4 linked regions of the Homo sapiens genome follow. The protein of the gene in region 1 purifies or fractionates together with the protein of each later gene. This does not show direct contact. Each region holds a gene or a part of one and is shown on either strand. Other genes may lie near its edges.

Region 1 (5,786 bases):
TTACTTGAATGCAATACAGAAAATGACTTCTGGAATAAGAAAATAAGACATGGAAAAGGGAGGAAAGGAAATGTTAGCAAACCCATCACAAAGCACAGGGACGAAAATTTGGCATATGGCACAATTTGAACTAAGGTATAGTAACCTCTTAAATGACTTGATGAAAAGTTTGATAAAAATTATTCTAAGAGTGCTGTGCACCATGGAATAGAGTAGGGAAGTGGCAGGAAGGCCAGTTTTACTGCTGCAATCATCTCAACAAGAAGTAATGAGGATGGCAACTATAGACAATAAAGGAAAAGAATAATCTAAGAGATGTTATGGGGTGAAAGAATCAGCAGATCACTGACAAATTAGGTGAGAGGAGGAGGGAGAAAAGTACAAAAAGAAAAGTACTAAAGGGAGATTTAAAGCCTTCAAATCTAGGAACTTCAAGACCAGAGGTAATTTTAACAAGAGAGAAAAGAATGATGGAAGAAACACTTGTATAGAAAAAATTTTAAGGGGAAATATTACATCAAATGCAGCTAAGAGCTAAAAAAGGAAAACTCAGAAGAAAATAAATACACAAAGAAAAAATAAATTAGCCAGAAAGGGATTATTTGCAACAAATAGAGAATTCTAAAGATTAAGGAGGGGAGTATTACCTAGGAAAAAGAACAGGACAACTAATAATAAGATAAGGTGTAACAACCACTACTCTAAGCACTTTGCAAATGTTGAATCATATACTCACAAGAATCCTATTATGTATATGAATAAATAGTATTATTTATCTATGCCCAGTTTACAGATGAGACACATAGAGGTTTACACAAAATTACAGGGTTAAGTAGTGGAGATCAGATTTGCACCTAGACAATATGGCTCCAAAGTTCATGTTCACAACCAGCTCAATATTCTAAGAGTAATTAAGACTCCAAAAAGAATGACAGACCTTAAAAGGTGAGAAATTAATTCATGAGTGCAAAGGTTCAAGAGATGGCTGATATTCCAAAGTATATAAGGTTAAAAAACAAACAAAAAAAACTCGCTTACCAGATCCAGAAAATTAGAATAAAGGAGAACTTAATGACAAAAGGTGGGAATAAAAAAAGACTGTCTTCTTAAGAGTTCATATACAAAAATACAGAGTTTAAGAAAATGAGCTGATGCCATAACCATAAAAACTAGATGTTTAGGGCATAATACTGTTAAGTACAACATCTAGAAAAATAATCATATTTACGCAAAATATAGCCCATGTCACGATCTACTGACATAAGCAATCAGAGAGGATGGACACAGTGTTTAATATGAGGCAGGCAAATATCAGGAAAGAAACACTCCCAATTATAAACAGATATTTGAGACTTCCACAGAACAAAGCATATAATAGGTTCTAAGTAGACATTATGCTGTCTATGCATTTTCCAAGCATTCTGAGGACTATACCAATTAGAATTACCTGATATACTTATGAAGGATATATATTCCTGGGCCCATCTCAGATTTTAGGAATCTGGGGGTAGAACTCAGGAAACAAAATATATATATATATATATATTTTTTTTTTTTTTTTTTGAGACGGAATCTTGCTCTGTAGCCCAGGCTGGAGTGCAGTGGCGCAATCTCAGCTCACTGCAACCTCTGCCTCCCAGTTCCCAGTTCAAGCAATTCTCCTGCCTTAGCCTCCCGAGTAGCTGGGATTACAGGCGCGCCATGATGCCCAGCTAATGTTTTAGTATTTTTAATAGAAACAGGGTTTCACCATGTTGGCCAGGCTGGTCTTGAACTCCTGATCTCATGATCCGCCCACCTCAGCCTCCCAAAGTGCTGGGATTACAGGTGTGAGCCACTGCGCCCAGCCAGAAACTAAAATTTTAATACTTTTTCCAGGCAATTCTTCAACACAAAAGTTGAGATCACTGTTTCCTTCTGTTGTAGCCTAAGTGCTTAGAACTCTGTGACTCCCCAACTATTTATCTCCTGTGGCTTTGTAATCTGACTCCAATCTTCTAGGTTCCTTAGTTGCCTATCCTTGACTTGTACTTATTTCTAAAAATCTTGGCCCTGGTTTGGTAATATAATAAAGACTTGGATATGGAAATTTTAGCTCTGAAGTCCATATAAACTCCAATACTGACATAGGAATAAAAAGCTCCAGTTCCTTTCCCTGAAATCATGGAGCTTTTGTTAAATATCACCTATGGTGTTGACTGGACATTGGATTGACCCAGTATGTCAATTCTTTTGTTGCCAGATCTGCAGAGAACAAGATGCTCACTACTACAGACTCAACTATTTGAATTCCTGCTTATTGTCTCTAAAGAAAGAAGGCACAAATTTTCTTGTCAGGGATGAATGACATTTGCTAAGAGAACAGTTGTCACTATATAGATAGAGGGTGCCTATGAGAATGTTCCAGTTCCTAGAGTAGTGATGAAATGAGTTCTCCTAAGATGTCTCTAGATCTTAATGATGGGACAAAAGAATGTCTACTTGATATGAATAAGAGCTTCTTTATTCAATAAGGGATAGTCTTTGATAGCAGCAATGAGGATCCTGATACAATGGCTTCTAGATACTTTCATGCTTAGTAGGTTAGTGATCCAAACTGTAGAGATAGTACGTTCATGTATCCAGGGCTACCTCTCATTCTCCTTCCTTAATCCTAGCTAGTTCTTATAGTCCTACTTTGTCATCTTTCTGGTTTGCCTGAGGTGACTAGAATAAAAAGCAAATCTTAAATTATAGGAGTCTTTTGCTATTTCCAGCAAACTGATCCTTGCAGAAAAGGATTAAATCCAACCTATCTTTGTATCCCACAAAGTACCTCATCACGCACTGCTAGACTTGACATGTTTAACTGAGTGCCTTGTTCAACACCAACAAGAGAACCCTCCTCATAAAAAGCATCTAAAAGCTTAAGCCTCATATAAAAGGTGCTTTCCACGCTACCTCCCACCAAGGTCACGGGATAAGGATAGACATTTAAGTCATGGTGGTCATGCAATGCATTCAGATTTCTCTCTTGCCAACTGAACTAAAAGAAACACACTGTCACCATCAACAGGTAAACTCTAGTTGAAAGAACAGTTCAAGTCAACACCATGGCAAATCAAATCCACTTACCAGTCAGAGAAGCAGAGACTATGAAAAACCAGGGCAATACAAACAGAACTGGAAGGGAGAAGTGAGAAAGGGAGATGAAGCAGACATGGAAGGAGATGCTGAGACAAGAAACCATTTATCACCAGAACGAGAGCTTGAGAGACTAGCTTCTCAGATTCCTAACGTTTCTCCCATTCACACAAGGTCTAGTCACTCTTCTTCAACCCAAAACAGCTGAATCCCTACAACGCCTGTCCTTGAAGCCAAATGATCCCTAATTCAAGCATTATTTTTTAGTACGTACACCAAGACAAATAGAAAGCTAGAAACATAAATCCAAGGAGGAAAAAATAATTCTACCAGGAAAAAACTGAAATCACAGGTAGCCAAAAAGCTTTGTAAATATGAATCTTATTTATCAGGAAGTACCATCAATATTTGTCATATTCCTGCTAATGAAACAAATTAAACTTTGTCTTTTTTTAATAGAAATTATCACAGTATTGACAAATGAAAAATTGTCTCAAACCCAGAGAAGACAAAAATCAGGTGATCTACCTTTATTTGTTAATACATTTGAAAATATTTTGTTAGCCTGTTTAAAGCAGACTTCCGTTGTTGTCTGTAATAATCGATAGTATATTGGATTAACAGCCTCATCTTTTAAGACAGGCTTTATAATCATATGGCTGATTAAGGGGCAGCAAAGTATAACCAACCCTGTAACTATCCTTTAACTTGTACCTAACAAAAATAGTAACCATAACCTCCCCTTTTATTCTGTAAAGATCCTTTTTCTGAAAATATCTTTGAACTAACTTCCTTTAAAGCTAGTTCCCTTGCAACAAGTACAAAATAAAACTATGACATATGCTGACAATCAATTAATCTGACAAGTTTGCATTAACACTGTCAAAACCAAACTAATGTCAAAATAGCTGTAATTTTGGTTATCTAACACAGATTCTAACATATCCTCTCTAGCAACAAACATACCATGTAAGCCTTGAATTTATTTAAAATTTAAATCTTTTTTTGTTTGTTTGTTTGAGATAGAGTCTCGCTCTGTTGCCCAATCTGGTGTGCAGTGGCGCCACCTTGGCTCACTGCAACCTCCGCCTCCCAGGTTCAAGTGATTCTCCTGCCTCAGCCTCCTGAGTAGCTGGGAGTACAGGTGTGTGCCACCACGCCCGGCTATATTTTTGTATTTTTAGTAGAGGCAAAGTTTCACCATGTTGGTCAGGCTGGTCTTGAACTCCTGACCTCATGATCCATCTGCCTTGGCCTCCCAAAGTGCCGGGATTACCGGCATGAGCCACCACGCCCAGCCTCATTTAAATCTTACACATTTTATTTGTGGACAATTTCAATGTTATCGTTAACTTTTACCAGAAAATTTTAATGGGTCCTAATATTATAATTCCTCATTTAAAAAAAAAAAACTAGCCGACCAGTGGCTTACGCCTGTAATCCCAGCACTTTGGGAGGCCAAGGCGGGTGGATCACCTGAGGGGGGATTCGAGACCAGCATGACCAACATGGAGAAACCCCGTCTCTATTAAAACTACAAAATTAGCCGGGCATGGTGGCGCATGCCCATAATCCCAGCTACTCAGGAAGGCTGAGGCAGGAGAATCACTTGAACCTGGGTGGCAGAAGTTGCGGTGAGATGACATCGCGCCATTGTACTCCAGCCTGGGTAACAAGAGCGAAACTCCATCTCAAAAAAAAGAAAAAAAAAAAAAACCTAGCCAATATTCAGATTCTCATAACAAAAAAAAAAATTGGTATGTTTGCAATGTCAGGTTCATCTAAAAAATAAACTTTTAAAAGAAAGTTTAAGTGGAATTTTTCATAAAAACTTTCAGGATGTGCCAATGCAACACTTAATGACAGAGATACACTCTGAGAAACGCACCATTAGGCAATTTCATTGTTGAGCGAACACCATAGAGTGTACTTACACAAGCCTAGGTGGTATAGCCTATTGCTCCTAGGCTACAAACCTGTACAGCATGTTACTGTATTAAACATTGTAGGCAACTGTAACGCACTGGAAAGTATCTGTGTTTCTAAACCTTGGAAAAAGTACAGTTAAAATATGATATAATCTTATGGGACCACTGTCATATATTCAGTCCGTTTTTGACTGAAACATCATTATGTACTACATGACTGTATTACATAAGGCAAAGAGTGAAATTACTGATCCAATAATTGGTTATCTTTCTCCTTAGCTATATTGACAAAACAACAGAACTTATGAAGAGGAGGAGAATCATTCAATCTTTGCAGTAAGAGTTCTGTACCTTGATTTTGGTGGTGATTATGCAATCTACACACCTGTGATAAAATGGCATAGAACTATACACACACATTGTACTGATGTCAATTTCCTGGTTTTAATATTGTATTAAAGTTATGTAGGATGTAACCAATAGGGGAAACTGGGGAAAAGTTACAGTGCCCTCTCTATTTTTGCAGCTTCCTGTAAACTATAATATGCCAAAAGCATCCTAAGGACTTGCCAGCACTTCAAGGGCTCACAATAATCCTATGAAGTAGGTACTATTTTTATCCCCAGTCTATTGATGGGGAAGCTGAGGTACAGACATTTTAAATGATTTGCCCAAGGTCACATAGCTAGTAACTGGCAAAAACCAGGATTTGGACACAGGTGGTATGACTCTCAA
Region 2 (5,786 bases), on another chromosome or scaffold:
TTCCTAACACACAGCAGCCGTCTAGTGAAAGTGCCGGCAGGACTCAAGCCTGAAACACTAAGAATCAAAGGGGCAGTGCAGGCCTCGCCTTCAAAGAGAGGCACGATGGGTAACGTGTGGGGCATGAATGTCCCCAGTATGACGGTTTAAGCCCTGGGAATGGATGGAAGATGAGGGAAGAGGGATGCTGAGGAATGAACTTCCCATGGAAATCTTGGCTCTCTCCATCAGGATGCACCTTTCTGAGGGCAGATAACAGAAAGAGGGAGGCTGAGGCGGGAGGATTGCCTGAGACCAGGATCTCTACAATAATAATAATAATAATAATAATAATAATAATAATAATAATTAGATGGGTGTGGTGGCATGTGCCTGTAGTCCCACCTACTCAGGAGTCTGAGGCAGGAGGATCACTTAAGCCCAGAAGCTCAAGGCTGCAGTGAGCTGTGACTGCACCCCTGCACTCCTACATGGGCCTCAGAGCAAGACCCTGTCTCTAAAAGTAAAATGAAATAAAAACAAAAAGAATCTTTGCCTTGTTGAAAAAGTCCCAGAGCCATCAAGAAGGTTCTGATAGCCCAAAGAGGGGTAGCGTCAGCCCCCCTCCACTAGGCAGCATGAGTAGGGGGCTGCCCGGCACAGGAAGGCAGAGCCCAATTCTGGGACAACCTGAGCATCAAAGTAAATGACTAATGAATCACAGCTTATTGAATAAAACAGGAAACTATGAGTTCATACTGATAGCAATAAATGAACGAGTAAACTGAAAGTTTGATGGGGAATGAGATATTTACAAAGCTACAATGCACCTCCCCAGACAACACTTACTATAAAAGGAGCCACTTTGCAGTGGAGAAGCTGGCAGATACCAGCTTAATCAAGTGACCAAAGAACACCATTAGTAACAGATAAACTGACATCAAGCGCCATCTGCTAGGACACACGGAGAACCCAGCCTGGCCTCTATGACATCCCTGCCAGGCCTGGAATCTAACCATGAGAGAGCAGCAGACACACGCAAACTAAGAAGAGTCTACAAAACAGCTGGTTGTAATCTTCAAAAATATTTGGTCAGAAAAGTTAAGGAGTGGCTTAGTTCTAGACTGAAGAAGATCAACAAACATGACAAACAACTACAATGTGTGATCCTGAACTGGATCCTTTTTTGCTATAAAGGACATTATTGGTGCTAATGAAGCAATGTTAATATTCTAATCTTGACTGTGACACAGGAGGATGTCCTTGTTGGTAGGAAATATATACCACGATATTCAGGAGTGATGGGCCATCAGGCTGGCAACTTATCCTTGATGGCTCAGGGAAAAATGAGTTCTTTGTACTGTACTTGCAGTTTTTCTACAAGTTTGAAATCATTTCCATTATTAAAACAAAACAAAACAAAACATAAATCTTACCCTTCACCCTCCAATTCTTCAGAGGCAATGGGAAGGACCTAAGACCAAAGGAATAGATTGCTTTTCAAATGTATGCTCAAAATGTTTGGCCATAAATGAATTATTCCTAAAATGGAAATAATTTTGAATTTCACCAATCTAATATAAAATCCTTTAGCCTTAGTTTTCAATAACAGATTCTTACAGATGTCTTGAACTCCTTTAACTCAGTGGTTGGGCCAAATCTGGTCTAAAGCCAGTTCATGTAAATAAAGTCTTTACTGAAACAAAGCCACGCTCATTCATTCACATGCTGCTTATGGCCATGTGTGCACTAGTTCGGCAGCACTGAGCAGCACAGTGGAGACCACGGGGCCCCAAAAGCTGAAAACCTTTACGGCCCAGCCCTTCACAAAAACAGTGTGCTAACCCCTGCTCACCTCCAGCTTCCCATTAGAAACTAAATGTACTGGCCATGGCCCCAAGAACTCTGACGAATCTTTAGTCCTTATAAATCTGTCCACAAAGTGCATGAAAGACTGTCTTTTTGATATTTATTTGCACTCAGCATAAAACCATGCTTCATTCTACTGAAGTTTCTATCCCTTGTAAGCCTTTGCCACAAAACAGGGCGTGACCATTTTTTAAAATTTAGTTTTAGTTGCCAAGACATGGCCATTGGTAACTACACGTGGCAAGGACGGCTCAGTAACTGGAACTGTGAGAAAAGCCTTCGGATGTTCTTATGTTATAAGAGCTCCTTAACCTAGGTATTGCCCCAAGTTAAGTTTAAAAAGATGACAGGCTCAAACTCCAAATTATGCTACTATTCTAGAATCTTTTAAATGAGCTAGGATATGTAGGTATGAAGAACGAACGAATGAATGAATGAATACAAACAGAATAAAGCTGACAGGCTGCACTGCACCTTGAAATCAGCGATGCTTACCATTTTTATTGCACGGGCATCATGTCACCCCAGCAGAATATTCCAAAGAGCTGACTAACTGGTCAAACCTCACTCAATTTTGGCTTCTGTTTCCCATGAATAATGCCAAAGAATTTCCTTTTGCCATGCCTTCCTTCCTGGTAACCTCCCCTGGGATCCTGGTTACCTACATGAGTGCCCCGCTGCAAGTTGGCAAAGTGCACGTCAGGAATGAAGAGGACAGGCTGAGTATCGAGATCAATGAAGGGTTTGAAAACTGTGATATCCATTCGCTTGTGAGAGGGAAGCAGTGGCACTTTAACATCAGAAACTGAAAAAAAAAAAAATTAAAAAAGAGGAAGCCAAGGTCAAAGGATTACATACAGACTGGATGCAGGCCACAGAGTGCTCGCCTCTGAGTAAGATACTCCAAGTGTAGCACTCTGTAAGATACAACAGGGCACGCTGCCTGCCTAAGAATCCCAGTTTATGTAAAGGAATTTGTTGTGTGTATTTCCACTAAAATCAACTGAATGTCTTATCAAATCAAAAGGGAAAAGGTATCTTCAAACACACACAGACGCATATCCACAGAAGATTTGCGACAGAGGCAGAGCGTATTTAGTTTTCATTGGAAAGGCTAAAATGTATAATTGTGTAAACATAATTTGGAAGAAATTTCACCTCAGCTGTCCTCATTAAATAATTTACATTCCAACACTCATGGACCCATTGACTTCAGAACATATCAAGAAACTCGACAATGAGGTGAAGTGTAAGCATGCCCATCCAATTTTTAATTTAGTAAGTTAGAGACTCCATCTTCCCCAATGATCTGGCTGGCCCTGAAGTACTCAGTAATGAGGTCTCCTAGTTAGTCAGCTGCTCTCTGAAGTGTCACTGGGAGTTTGTACTTTGATACCAGTAGGAGAATCCTGACTAAGGTGTTGCAGGGCAAATGTCTGCTGAGCCAGACAGACCATTCAAAAGAGCTGCCAGAAGCCCATGTACTACAGATGGAACCCTACAGGCACAGAACAGCACTTTCTTCATTTTAGATACAAGATTTTGTGAATATGAATACTGGTCACAATTAAAAAAAAAAGAAAACAAAGCCTTCCTGGTGAAATGTCCAAACAGAAGCCCTATAGATTCTGCAAATATTAAAATACTATACTTTAGATACAAAATATGATCTTACTTGGAGTTAAGACATCTTGAATTCTCAAGACCATTATTATTACTTTAAAAAATCTAGATAAGTCCCAATTTTAACAGTGATTCATGCAGAACGTGTTGTCATTTTTCAAGACTGGAAACAGAAGTCTGAACTAGAACTGAGAGCCAAAAACGCTGAGGTCGGGAAAACCCAGGGATCTATCCTGTAGTCCCCAGGAAAACCCCTCCCGCTGAGCTGGCATCTGCTGCTGATCTGAGGAAGAGGCAGTGCCACACTGCAGAACAGGAAGAACACCCACTGTCTTCTGCGTGCAAACTCCAGCCACCATTCTCAATGGAAAAGGTCTGAAGCTTGCCGGGAACATTTCTACTTACAGGCATTCACCTGGGAGCTGGGGTCAGGACACTTGCCTTTTCTTTTGCTTTGCTTTCGTTCTTCATCCCTGATTTTCCGCTCAGCTCCCTGTAGGTTAAGAGAAGACAAGATATGATTCTGTTTTCCAATCTTCTTTAAAATATTTAACTCTTATCCTGACCAATGGAAGAAGAAGCCTTTCTCCCTTCTCTGGACAGGAACCCCATTACTTACTATATTCATGAGGCTTATCATAGTAGTTTCTTCTAAAAAGATTAGTCTTAAAATTATTTTTAATTCTATGAAATCACAGGGAACAACATTTATTTGAAAAACAAATAAAGCAAAATTCCGGCCGGAAGCGGTAGCTCATGCCTGTAATCCCAGCACTTTGGGAGGCCGAGGTGGGTGGATCATTTGAGGTCAGGAGTTCGAGACCAGCCTGGCCAACATGGTGAAACCCCACCTCTACTAAAAATACAAAAATTAGCCAGGCGTGGTAGCGGGCACCTGTAGTCCCAGCTACTTGGGAGGCTGAGGCAGGAGAACTGCTTGAACCCCTGAGAGGTGGAGGTTGCAGTGAGCTGAGATCACACCACTGCACTCCAGCCTGGGTGACAAAGCGAAACTCTGTCTCAAAAAAAAAAAGCAAAATTTCTCCTTATAATGGATGTGGTCGTGTTAAATGAAAGCTGAGAAAATCTGTGAGTATACCACATGCCTGCAAAGACACAAGGGTATTTTCCCTTTGTCCAGTAGGAAAAGGAAATGAAAGAAAAAACCCAAGTTGGCCCTACTCTTGAGTATACTCTCCTATATGGCCAAGGTTATCACTGAAGGCTGTGATTCAGTCCAAGGGCCTGGTATCAACCATGTGGCAGATCTAACCAAGCAGAATTCACAAAGTGAAGATGGAACTAGAAATATGCATCATCACTTAAAAGAGAACAAGTGGGCTGGGCGCGGTGGCTCACGCTTGTAATCCCAGCATTTTGGGAGGCCGAGGTGGGTGGATCCCTTGAGGCCAGGAGTTCACGACCAGCCTGGCCAACATGGGAAACCCTGTCTCCATTAAAAATACAAAAAATTTAGCCGGGCGTGGTGATGCATGCCTGTAATCCCAGCTACTCGGGAGGCTGAGGCAGGAGAATCAGTTGAACCTGGGAGGTAGAGATTGCGGTGAGCTGGGATCGCACCACTGTACTCCAGTCTGGGTGACAGAGTGAGACTCCCTCAAAGAAAAAAGAGAAAAAGTGTACTCAGAGTCCTAGAAAAAGACACTCGTGTACTCTGTATATCAACTGCTCAAAGACCGATAGTACCATGCAGCTGAACCCACAACAACAAAGTTCAAAAGAACCATATTAGTAACAAACACGGCCCAAAATCAGGCAATGAAGCATATTTAAAAACATTACATTTAATCATTTTGCTTGACTTATTGGAATTAATTTCTGGATGGTACAGATTTCTTTACATAGTGCTCCAGTTAAGGATGAACTGGTAGCTTATTTTTCTGTTAAATAAATTTGCTGAGAGCAAAAAGAGGCAATAAAAATCCCACTGATCTTATTAGCATTATTATATAATAAGGACCACATTTTAAAAACAGAATATAAAACCACCTTCTGCCTTTTCTAGAAGGTGGTAGCATACTAACATAGTAAATATACAACCTGCTTATAAAAATTGCTATGTAACATTGACACAACAGTCCCTCCCTGACACAGAAAAACAGGTAAATATCCCCAATCTCCTAGCCATTATTGTATGAAGTTGGTCTGGGTCTCTCTGTCCCTTCTAACAAGTCTAACCATAACTTCATTCTGATGATAAACACCACCCTCCTCCAAAAGGTGGAGGGTGCAGTCCTATTACAAAATAGGACTGTCCCTCCTTATTTATCTGTGTATCTATAAAGAATAAGGTA
Region 3 (5,786 bases), on another chromosome or scaffold:
AACACTCATGAACTTACTGCCCCAAAAGAGTTACAGTTTGTTTAAAACTGAATAAAACTACATTATGTGTGTTGGGGGGAGATGGAAAAAAAACAAAACATACTGCCGAATCCAACAACTAGAACATTATCAATTCCCGTGCGCTCCCTCTCTCGTCCCATCCCCTTTCACCCCACTCAGAGGCAACTCCTATCTTGATTTTTGTGTTTATCAATCGATTGCTTCTTAACAATAACTTTACTGTATATACTATATATTAAAGTATATTTTATTTATTTATTTATATATTTTTTGAGACAGGGTCTGTCTCAGTCTGTTACCCAGGCTGGAGTGCAGTGGTGTGATCTCAGCTCACTGCATCCTCAACCTCCTGGGCTCAGGTGATCCTCCTATGTCAGCCTCTGCGGTAGCTGGGACTACAGGCACAGGCCACCATGCCAAACTAATTTTTTGTATCTTTTGTAGAGATGGAGTTTTGCTGTGATGCCCAGGCTGGTCTTGAACTCCTGGGCTCAAGCAATTGGCCCGCTTCAGTCTCCCAATATGCTGGGATTATAGGTGTGAGCACCATGCCTGGCCTACCACATTTAACCAATATATGGTATGTCTTTTTGAACTTTATACAGAAATGGTATCATAATTCTGTAGTTTGCTTTGTTAAATTCAACATTTATATTTCTAAGATTCATCCATGTTGAAGAATGTAGCTCTAGTTCATTTGTTTTCACTGCTATATGGTAGTCCATTGTGGGAATACACCATAATATTTTTATCTAACCACCCAAAACAAACATTTGTGTTATTTCCAGTTTTTGCTTTTAAAAACAATATAGCAACAAATTCTTTGTCTCTCTGACTCTTATACAATATGCAAGAGTTTCTCTAGGGCATACGCTTATAAAAAATGCTATTTCAGGCCAGGCGTGGTGGCTCATGCCGGTAATCCCAGCACTTTCGGAGGCCAAGGCGGGCAGATCACCTGAGGTCCAGAGTTTGAGACTAGCCTAGCCAACGTGGTGAAACCTCGTCTCTACTAAAAATACAAAATTAGCTGGGCATGGTGGTGCATGCCTGTAATCCCAGATACTTGGGAGGCTAAGGCAGGAGAATCTCTTGAACCTGGGAGGTGGAGGTTGCAGTGAGCCAGGATCACGCCACTGCACTCCAGACTGGGCGACAGAGTGAGACTCCGTCATAAAAAAAAAAAAAAAAAAAAAAAAAAGCAAAAAAAAAGCTACTTCCGTGCAATGTTAATTTGCATTTCTCTGACTACTAATAAGTTTAATCATCTTTTCATGTGTTGATTGGGTGAACTAAGTTCAGTTCACTCACCTTGCAGCAGACCCAGACCTGATCTCAGATCCCAGCTTATATGGACATTTGTCCCCAGGATAGCTCTGGCTATTGTGTTCGCTTACTATTGCTCCTCAGATTCTAGCAAAATGCCTTCTTATCTCTATTTTGTTCTTAGGAGAATATTTCTCTTATTTTCTTGAAAGCTCCATGACTCTTTAAAAAGAATGCTTGTTATGGGTTACCTGGGTTCCATTTGCATGGAGTGGAAGGGCACTTGAGAGTTGTCAGTCACACTGCCTGCCTTCCTTCTCTGTTTGTCCCTGCTACTGGCACTGAGAGAGTATCCAGCAGCAAGTCCCCCTCTGAGTTAGACAGACTGATTTACCCAAAAGTCAAGCCCCAGTCTAACAACAAAGCTGGTGTTGTAACTTTCATCTGTTGATTCTGGTGTCTATTTCTCAACTGAATCAAAAATTGGAAAGGAATTACATACTGTATGATTCCATTTATATGAAATGGCCAGAATAGACTAATCCATAAAAACTGAAAGAGTGGTTGCCTAGGGCTAGGGGGAGTGAAGAATGGGGAGTGACTGCAAATAGGCATGAGACTTCTTTCTCAGATAATGAAAATGTTCTGAAATTATGTTGTAGTGATGCCTGTACAACTTCGTGAATCTACTAAAGAAGCAAATTTATGATAGATGAATTACATATCAGTAAAACTATCATATAATTAAAAAGGAAATGGGGTATTGCTTACTGAGATCAAACACTTGTTCAAAAATGCATAAACATAAACTTAACTGTTCAGTTGAACTGTCACAAAGCAAACATATGTAACCATCATCTGGGTCAATAAATAAAACATTGCCAGCAAACCAGAAGCCTTCCTTTTGTCCCCTCCTTCCAATCTTGGGGCTTTAACCACAGCATGTCTTCCTTTTCCTTAGTAATCTAGGAATAATAAATCCTAGATACAAGCCCTTTGTTGATTATAAGTGGCAAGTATCTTCTCATATTCCATGGCTTGCCTTTGCACTCTTGTAGTGATATCTTTTTTTTTTTTTTTTTTAAGGCAGGGTCTCACTCTGTTGCCAAGGTTGGAGTAGAGTGGTACAAGCATGGATCACTGCAGCCTCAACCTCTTCATGCTTAAGAGATCCTTCCACCTCAGCCTCCTGAGTAGCTGGGACCACAGGCATGTGCCACCACAATTGGCTAATTTTTGTATTTTTTGTAGAGAGAGGGTTTTGCCATGTTGCCTAGCCTGGTTTCAAACTCCTGGGCTCAAGCAATTCACCCACCTCAGCCTTCCAAAGCACTGGGATTACAGGTGTGAGCCACTGCACCTGGCCTAGTAATATATTTTAATGAACAGATATTCTTCATTGTAGCATAGATAAATTAACCTTTTTATGATTCGTGCTTTTTGTATCCTTTCCCTAACATAGGAAATTATTCATTGGCCCCTTCAAACACTGTCATTGAGTGTACATTATTTAATCAGATGTATAGATAGACAGAGAGACAGACCGATAGATAGATAGATAGATAGATAGATAGATAGATAGATAGATACAGCCTTTTTTGCTAATAAATTTTTAAAAAGAAAGATGCAGTGGATATGTACTTTTTTCCAAATTGCAAACAATACATTTTCTATTTGAATCAAATAAAGCTAATTCAGAACACTGAAAATCAATATATTCACAGAAAAATTATTCTAAGACCTTTATACTTCTTGATTTTTCAAGGTTAAAAAATTGTTATTATCAAGAAAACTTACAGAAAACTTCCATTTACTTCAAATCCAAATAATTCGATAATATAGTTACTGTTTTATTTTTATTTTTAGAGACAGAGTTTTGCCCTGTCGCCCAGGCTGGAGTGCAGTGGCGCTATCTCGGCTCACTGCAAACTCCACCTCCTGGATTCAAGTGATTCTCCTGCCTCAAACTCCCAAGTAGCTGGGATTACAGGCATGTGCCATGATACCTGGCTATTTTTTGTATTTTTAGTGGAGACGAGGTTTCACCATGTTGGCCAAGCTGATCTCGAACTCCTGATTTCAAGTGATCCCCCTGCCTTGGCCTCCCAAAGTGCTGGGATTATAGGCGTGAGTGACCACACCTGGCCTATAGTTACTATTTTAGAATAATATTATATAGCACTCATATCTAAAATTATGTGCCTAAAGAATTGTAAGACTTCTCAAAGATTATATTACATTCAAAATATCTGTAGTAGTATACGAATAATAAAGCTTTAAAGACTAGTAATTCATTATGGTAGCTGTGATGATTCTTAGTTAATCAGATTATTCAAGTTACCAGAACATTTCCAATCTGGGCAAATGTGGGTTTACTCTAGAAGAATGTATATATCCTCATCATTTGGTCCCAATCCATCTGTACTAATTATACATATTTTTCCTTTCTCACTCCCCAATAAGCTTTTGTTTTGTTATAGAAGAGCATTGCTGTTTACTGTTTCATATGCATTTAATTTATAAAGTCAATTTGTGCATAATTATTTGTATTAACCTGTAGATTCTATAGGAGTAATTATTAATCGGCACTTTCCATAGCACCTAGCATATGGTAGACCCACAAATATTTATGAACAAATTGAATGGCAAAAATCTAACCTTCAAAAATAATATGCTCCATCTATTAACACAATTTTCATCACCTGATCATTAAAATTCACTGTATATCCTTTCTCCTCAGCAACAAAGTTCACCTCAATACATAAATACTTACTTTCTCTCCTTTCAGGCTCATTTTGTTCAAGACCATAAGCTCCTGATGGATTCAGCTGCCACTGTAAGAGTGCACAAACATTTTACTTGTTTAAAGAGGATTTAATACATAGCATTCCAGCACATTGATTTTAAATATCAAAACAACTTCTTAAAAATGGAAGAAAAATGGCTGGGCATAGTGGGTCACACCTGTAATCCCAGCACTTTGGGAGGCCAAGGTAGGTGGATTACCTGAGTTAAGGAGTTTGAGACCAACCTGGCCAACATGGTGAAACTCCGTCTTTAATAAAAATACAAAAATTAGCTGGGCGTGGTGGCACGCGCCTGTAGTCCTAGCTACTTGGGAGGCTGAGGTAAGAGAATTGCTTGAACCTGGGAGGTGGAGGTTGCAGTGAGCTGAGATGGTGCCACTGCACTTCAGCCTGGGTGACAGAGCAAGCCTCCATCTTGAAAAAAAAAAAAAATTAAAAAAATAGAAGAAAAAGAAGTTAGCATGTTCAAATTAACAAAGCCCTAATAACGCCACACTGAGTGATCCTGAATGATATAACTTCTGGGATCCGAATCAATACTCTTAGAGAAGTTGAAGATTCTTTACATTCATTTTAATTGGAAGTAAGTGGAAGACCAGAGGATTGGAGTGACTTGTCTCAGGTTACACCCTAACTACAGGAGGCAATAGAATTAGAACCCATGCCCAGTACTATGGAATTAACATCGCATTGTATTCTATCTCCAGGTCCTAGAGAATCTTATAATAGCTAGAAAAGGCCTAGGTATTAAAGAATGAAAATATGACCAAGATAGGCCATGCACAGTGGCTCACGCCTGTAATCCCAGCACTTTGGGAGGCTGAGGTGGGTGGATCACGAGGTCAGATAGAGACCATCCTGGCTAACAAGGTGAAACCCCGTCTCTACTAAAAATACAAAAAATTAGCTGGGCGTGGTGGCCGGTGCCTGTAGTCCCAGCTACTCGAGAGGCTGAGGCAGGAGAATGGCGAGAACCCGGGAGGTGGAGCTTGCAGTGAGCCGAGATTGCACCACTGCACTCCAGCCTGGAAGACAGAGCAAGACTCTGTCTCACAAAAAAAAAAAAGAAAAAAGAAAAAAAAAAGAAAAGAAAAAGAAAATATGACCAAGATTACCTTGCCTTTTAATGTTGTTATATCATAAACTATTACCTGCATCATATCATTTTATATCATATCATATATCTCCTCTGATTACTGTATTTCATCTCAACCATTCAGGAATAAATAGGGAAGCCTGAAGATTCACAGATATTACATAGAATATTGGGGCAGGAGAAAATAAAAATGGAGAGTAATCGGTATCTTATAGCACAGCCCTTCTTTTCTCAGCTGGATAGAATCTCTATCAGAATCACTAATGACTTAACCAAAAGGCCCTGCTAGGGCACCATCTCAGGACACAAATATGGATTACCCGGGAGCCTCTTCCATAAGCATCAGTTCACTCATCAGATTAACTAGTTAACATCACGAGCCTTGAGGGGGGATGAGATACAGGACAAACATTTTACCATGTATTAAAAGTCCCTGGAAAGGGAGGACATCTAGAAATGGTTGGTTATTTAAACGAATGGGATGGTTTAGGCTAGCACCAAGAAAGAGAGAAGACTTAGAAAGGGTAGGAAGCTACATGAGAAATTACCAAAAAAATGTTTAAAATTAGGCATTTTTTGAAAGACGTCAAACCACT
Region 4 (5,786 bases), on another chromosome or scaffold:
CTTTCATCTTGAGCTATATCACTTAGATGATGCAGTGATCTTATTTTTACTAATCATTGTTAGTTAGTAGTAATTAAATTGTCAAAACCAGTGGCAGGAATAGTTATCTGTGACTGGTTGTTTATAGTCAGACAGATGCTTGCAGTGAAACTGCTTCTTGATCTTCTCGTGTCTGCCCTTGCCCTCACTGCACCCACCTCACCTGAACTTGTCAAGGACAGTGTCTGCCTTCTTCTTTCTGTCCTGGACCCTGGCATGCCTATTACATTGTCCTGACCTGCATCCCAGGCAGGGCCCATAAAACAAGAAGTGAGACAGAATACAACATGAAGGAAGACTTCAGCTTGGAGCCTCACTCTCTGAGAGGACCAGTCTCAGTTTTAAGTATTTACTGAGCCCCCATTTTACTGTAAAATACTGAAGTAGGCATTCTATGCTGTATGGATGATAAACAGAAATAAAACCTAAACTCTGATTGGAAAAGTGAGGTATAGGACAAGCATGAAAAAGTACAAGCATGGAAACACCAACAAATACAATAATAATAATAATAATAATAATAATAGTGTCCATAAGTCAGTAGATTAAATCTCTAGGTGCCCATTTTACATATTCATAACATGCCATGTAGCTACATACATAATGTAGTCAGAAGGGGGAGGGGACTTGATTTTTGAATTTTATTTTGTTTTCCTTAGATGCTGCTTAATTCTATCTAGTTAAGGAAGAGAATTGGACAGAATTCAGGAGAGGAAAAGTGGGTGAAGGAGTTTGTGGAGTTTTAGCACGGCACCCTGTGATCACCTCTCCACAAGCATTTACACCTTTCTCTGTATGGGCATCAGATGAGATTGATAACTGAGCTGGGGAAATTGGGAGGGAAAGGCTTCATGAGCCAATGCGAGATGCAGAGCTGATCTCTGTTCCAGCATGAACACCAGCCTCTCCATTCTGTGTCTGTTTGCATTGAGACAAAGCAAGAAGGTTTCCTATGATCAAACGCATATCCTTGTGTTGCCAGGGACACCACGATCATCAACCACTCACGGAATGGCAGCTACGGAGAGAGCTCGCTGGAGGCCCACATCTGGCAAGAGGAGGAGGAGGTGGTGCAGGCCAACAGAAGGTGTCAGGACATGGAATACACGTAAGGGACGACTATGTGTGACGTGTGGGGCCCGCTGCATTCACACTCCAGGCCTTCCAGAACAGATTGCTTCTCTGTCCTGTTCTGAAAGGCTGTGAGCATGAGGTCTCCAAAAACTCTCCTCCCCCATGCTGTGCCATGGAGAGAAGGAAAAGGTTCCAACCTAAGCACGTGGTTCCACTCAGCAATGGATCTGGTGCCGGAGTTCTCTGGGGGAAATTGCGTGTCACCTGCCGGTTTTAAGATGCAGGCTGAGTCTAGTGACAGAAGAATTTAGATGTCTGTGTTATTTCTTGGTGTCTATCTCTATGACATTATGAGCTGAAAGGGGGAAACATTATATCCCAAAGATTCAGAGTTTTTGAGCCAGAATTTATATATTCCAGTCCAAAATAAAGAACATATTTAGCTAATGCACTCTTCTGATGGGCTACACAAAATTTCCAGCAGACTTTTTGACATAATAAAACTAGCCTGTCCCCCTTCACTACCTAAGGGCTTGTGGAACCCTGGGAGCCCTAGGCCTCTTATTTTGCAGATGTGAAAATAGGGCTGAGTAGTTGAGCCATTGATAGATAGGCTCAGTGAGTTACTATCAAAGTTGTGAAAATAACTCAGCATTCTTCCAGAAAAATCATCTTCTACCAGAGAACCTGTTCATCTTGGTTCTTTTTTCTTAGAAAATAGAGAAATTGACTTTAGCTGAAAGCTCACCCTGTTTGAGGCTTTAGAGTTTTTATGCTTCCCTATCCCCTACCTACCCCCGGCCCCCACCGCCAATGCTAGACCCTCTAAATATGGTCCCCAGCCGACTTCGGTCCAGGAATGTGGCCACGGTCATTCTAACTGTACCTCGCTGAAGTCCCAGTCTCCCAAGGTGCCAGAGAAGGTGTACTCTTTTGACATATGACAAAAGACCTGTCTTAACAATTTGGAGATTATCAACATTTGAAGACTCGTACTGTGCTTCATCCTGTATCCCTAAATTACAATTAAAGTCTTTGGGACAGCCTGAGATAAATGTTTCAAGTTTTTCTAGCCAAGTGGCTTTTTATGGAGACTGTTTTGTTTTGTTTTACAGTATTAAAAATCTCCATGCCAAAATCATAGAGAAAGATGCTATGATTAAGGTCCTGCAGCAGCGATCTCGTAAAGATGCCGGGAAGACAGACTCCTCCAGCCTACGTCCTGCCCGCTCCGTTCCATCCATAGCAGCAGCTACTGGGACACACTCTCGCCAGACCTCTCTTACCAGCAGCCAGCTGGCTGAGGAAAAGAAGGAAGAGAAGACCTGGAAGGGGAGCATAGGTGAGCCCCACACCTCTGTCAGACCATGATTGGAAAAGCAAGACCAGACAGCTTCTCTGCCACTCATGGGACACGGAAATGTCCCTGAATAGTTCCTGGTCTCAGTTTACTCATCTGTGAAGTGGGGAGGGAAATCAGTCATACTTCAGTTATAGATATGTGGAAGCATTGTGTAAATTCTAAAGACTGCACCACTGGAGTAGCTCTTAGCCATGGGTTGACTCAGATCAGAATTATCTATTATTGTTGTAAGTTGAGGTGACCCTTATAACACAAAAGGCTCTCATAGAAAAGCCTAGAGACATCACGCCTCTGAACTTGGCTCTGCTCTAGACCAGTTGTATGACGGCTCCACCTCTGCTTCCACGTCTGGAAAGGGAGGACAGTGTCTGCCTGCTTTACCCCATGGGGAGTGGGAGGGAATAATGGGATAATGGGGGGAGGAGAGTGTCTGCCTGCTTTACCCCATGGGGCGTGGGAGGGAAGAATGGGATAATGGTGGGAGGAGAGTGTCTGCCTGCTTTACCCCATGGGGCGTGGGAGGGAAGAATGGGATAATGGGGGGAGGACAGTGTCTGCCTGCTTTACCCCATGGGGCGTGGGAGGGAAGAATGGGATAATGGGGAGAGCACATTGGAAGAAGTGCTCTCTCGCATAAGGTAGGGGTGGTAAGTTTTTGCTGTATTGTTGTTGCATGGGCAGAATTCCCTAAGTGTGGTCTTAGCCAGGAGTAGGTTTCTTGGGGGCAGGCAGGCTTGTTGGCTGGCTGGGCTAGCCAAGCTGGAGGGGAAGCAGGCAGCGTGCTCAGACACAGGTCCTCCACATCCTTCCCCTGCACTCTGGCCTCTCCAGGGGTCTGGCCCTTCTTTGATGCATTTCCCCACATCAGATCGTGTTTTTGTTTCTCTGTGCAGCTGAGAGCCAGTGGTCCTCAGCATAAGACCCCAAAGGAGACTGGCTGCTCTGGGCCAGAGGGGATAAGAGCTTCCATATGAACCCGACAGAGTTGGGGGGATCAAAGGCTCCCAACCAGAATCTGTGTTTGAAGTCCCTCCACTGGTGGCTTCAGCAGCCCCTGCCCCCAAAGGAAATGCACTTCAAAGAAGACGTGTGTGGACAGCAGCTGAGATCATCAAAGACTGTCCCAAGGACATTTAGCTCCCACCCCAGCTAGAGAGCTGGGAGGCAGTGCTGAGCCAGGCCTGGTCAAGGAGTTTGAAAATTTGCTCAGCTCTGGTAGCAACCTCCCTGGGAGTCCCCTGTTTGTGACGTGCAGCCAGGCAGGCATCTCTGGTGTCTGTGCCCGTATGCCCCAGGACCTGGCATGTCTAAACCAGGCCTGGGAGCCGGAGGACTTGTTTGAAGGAAGAGCTGCTGTGTTCCCTGCACTGATATTCCTCCTCATTGTTGTCATTGGTGTCCACGTGTCACAAACACAGGGACTCTCCAAGGGGCTGAGGCAGGTTCATGGGTGACTGCACAGTTCCCCACATGTTGTCACCATTGCTTGCCTGATAGGCTCTGGAAGGAGGTGGAGGTGACAGCATATACCTTCCCAATTGCCCAGGGTATCCCAGGAGCTATGGCTGGCTAGTGACTTATTCAGCCTGTCACTCCCTACGAGGACATCCTGCAGACTCTGGAGTTTCCACAGGCTGGGCGATGAAGTGGAAAGAACATAGGTTGGACTCCAAGTCAGGCACAGTTGGGTTTGAGTCCCATTTCTGCTGCTTCTTAGCTGTGAGATGTTAGTTTTTGTGAGCTTCCATTTCCTTCTCCGTAAGACAGGATAAGGCCTGTCTCGCAGGAATGACATGCAGTATGAAGTGAGATGATGTGGGAAGCGCAGGTGAAGGCCTTTGCTGCTCAGCGTGGTCTGTGGACCAGTGGCACCAGCACCATCTGGGAGCTTCTTAGAAATACAGAATCCCAGGCCCTGCCTGCTGGATCAGGTCTTCCTTTTAACGGTATAGCCAAGTCATTGTTATGCACATTGCATTTTGAAAAGCACTGCTCTCGACAAACTGAACTGCCCTGAGTTCTAAATGGGCACCTTAAAACAGCTCTGGCGAGGATACTTTATGAATTGCTGGCTATCTAACCAGATAAGAGAACAAATACTTGATTGCGCTTACCGCCTTTTCTATAGGCTAGCATTCTAGGGTGCTGGCACTTTCCCGCGTGTGTGCTGTATTTAAAAATAAAAAGTTATCCTCCCACCCAGCTTTCCAGGAAGGCTCTGAGGAAAATGGACACCTCTGCACACCACGCCTCCCATTTCCATAGCCAGCATCCCCTCTTCCCCACCCCAGCCTCACTACTCTTGAGGAAGGGGGTAAGGAGAGGGCTAAGTGGCCTTTCCTAGGAGGCTGGCTGGCTTTCTGCTTCTGGGAGGCTACAGTTCCACCGCAGAAATGTGCAGGTAGCATGTTTATCTTTGAATCCAAGCCTGTGGGGGACCATCATCCATTACAAGGAGTGGGGTGGAATTGTGAACTATTCAGAAGAGCAGCAAGCCAATGGGAACATGTCTAGGACCGGGGAAGCCTTGTAGTTTTTCTTAAGCACACTGCCACGCTTCAGGCCAGCCCTTCTGGGCCACGTTGGTAACAGCAAGCATGGTCTCTGGAAAGCCTTGTGGGAACCTCCCTACCCCTCCTGCTGGCAATTAGGCACTTCTCTGTTCGTCCATACCACCCTGTGAATAATTTATTTGTATCCTACAGTTTATATATTAAGTTATAATCAGTTTACTTGACAACTACTTCTCCACTCCAAAAAAAAAAAACAAAAAAAACACACAAAAAAAACCTACAATTTTTTAGGAAGGGGACTAGGTCTTCCATTTTTTATTCTCTCAGTGTTTGTTATTTTATCAGCCTTGTAATAAGTGTTTATTAAATGCTTGGGGAATGAATCAATGAATGAATGAAGCAATCATCAATCAACAAGGAACAGATCTGCAAGACTAGATTTAAAAAAAAAAAAAGGAAAAAAAGAATGTTGAAAAATCTGTTCTCTGCCCTCAGGATTGCTGCTGGGGAAGGAGCACCATGAGCATGCCTCTGCCCCACTGCTGCCACCCCCACCCACCTCAGCACTGTCCTCCATAGCCTCCACTACGGCAGCCAGCAGTGCCCACGCCAAGACAGGCAGCAAGGACAGCAGCACACAGACTGACAAGAGTGCCGAGCTCTTCTGGCCCAGCATGGCCTCCCTTCCCAGCCGCGGCCGGCTGAGCACGACCCCTGCTCACAGCCCCGTCCTGAAACACCCAGCGGCCAAAGGGACCGCAGAGAAACTGGGTATGTGGGCTACCCCACCTTGATGC

The links.
Region 2: the proteins of HMBOX1 (region 1) and GRHL1 purify together in Homo sapiens (co-immunoprecipitation; one large-scale study listed by IntAct). This does not show direct contact.
Region 3: the proteins of HMBOX1 (region 1) and CDADC1 purify together in Homo sapiens (affinity purification with mass spectrometry, with the first as the bait; one large-scale study listed by BioGRID). This does not show direct contact.
Region 4: the proteins of HMBOX1 (region 1) and AMOTL1 purify together in Homo sapiens (affinity purification with mass spectrometry, with the first as the bait; one large-scale study listed by BioGRID). This does not show direct contact.

The regions. Positions count from the first base shown.
Region 1 is NC_000008.11:28,896,032-28,901,817, reverse strand, and holds part of HMBOX1 (homeobox-containing protein 1), read right to left. Parts: intron 1-5,786. UniProt on the Homo sapiens protein: Binds directly to 5'-TTAGGG-3' repeats in telomeric DNA. Associates with the telomerase complex at sites of active telomere processing and positively regulates telomere elongation.
Region 2 is NC_000002.12:9,988,874-9,994,659, reverse strand, and holds part of GRHL1 (grainyhead-like protein 1 homolog), read right to left. Parts: intron 3,965-5,786; coding exon 3,913-3,964; coding exon of another isoform or gene 3,877-3,912; intron 2,654-3,876; coding exon 2,514-2,653; exon of another isoform or gene 2,344-2,513; intron 1,686-2,343; exon of another isoform or gene 1,454-1,685; coding exon 1,416-1,453; exon of another isoform or gene 1-1,415. UniProt on the Homo sapiens protein: Transcription factor involved in epithelial development. Binds directly to the consensus DNA sequence 5'-AACCGGTT-3'.
Region 3 is NC_000013.11:49,284,557-49,290,342, reverse strand, and holds part of CDADC1 (cytidine and dCMP deaminase domain-containing protein 1), read right to left. Parts: intron 4,122-5,786; coding exon 4,061-4,121; intron 1-4,060. UniProt on the Homo sapiens protein: Catalyzes the deamination of cytidine and deoxycytidine into uridine and deoxyuridine, respectively. May play an important role in testicular development and spermatogenesis.
Region 4 is NC_000011.10:94,863,714-94,869,499, forward strand, and holds part of AMOTL1 (angiomotin-like protein 1), read left to right. Parts: intron 1-1,021; coding exon 1,022-1,147; intron 1,148-2,228; coding exon 2,229-2,455; intron 2,456-5,484; coding exon 5,485-5,760; intron 5,761-5,786. UniProt on the Homo sapiens protein: Inhibits the Wnt/beta-catenin signaling pathway, probably by recruiting CTNNB1 to recycling endosomes and hence preventing its translocation to the nucleus.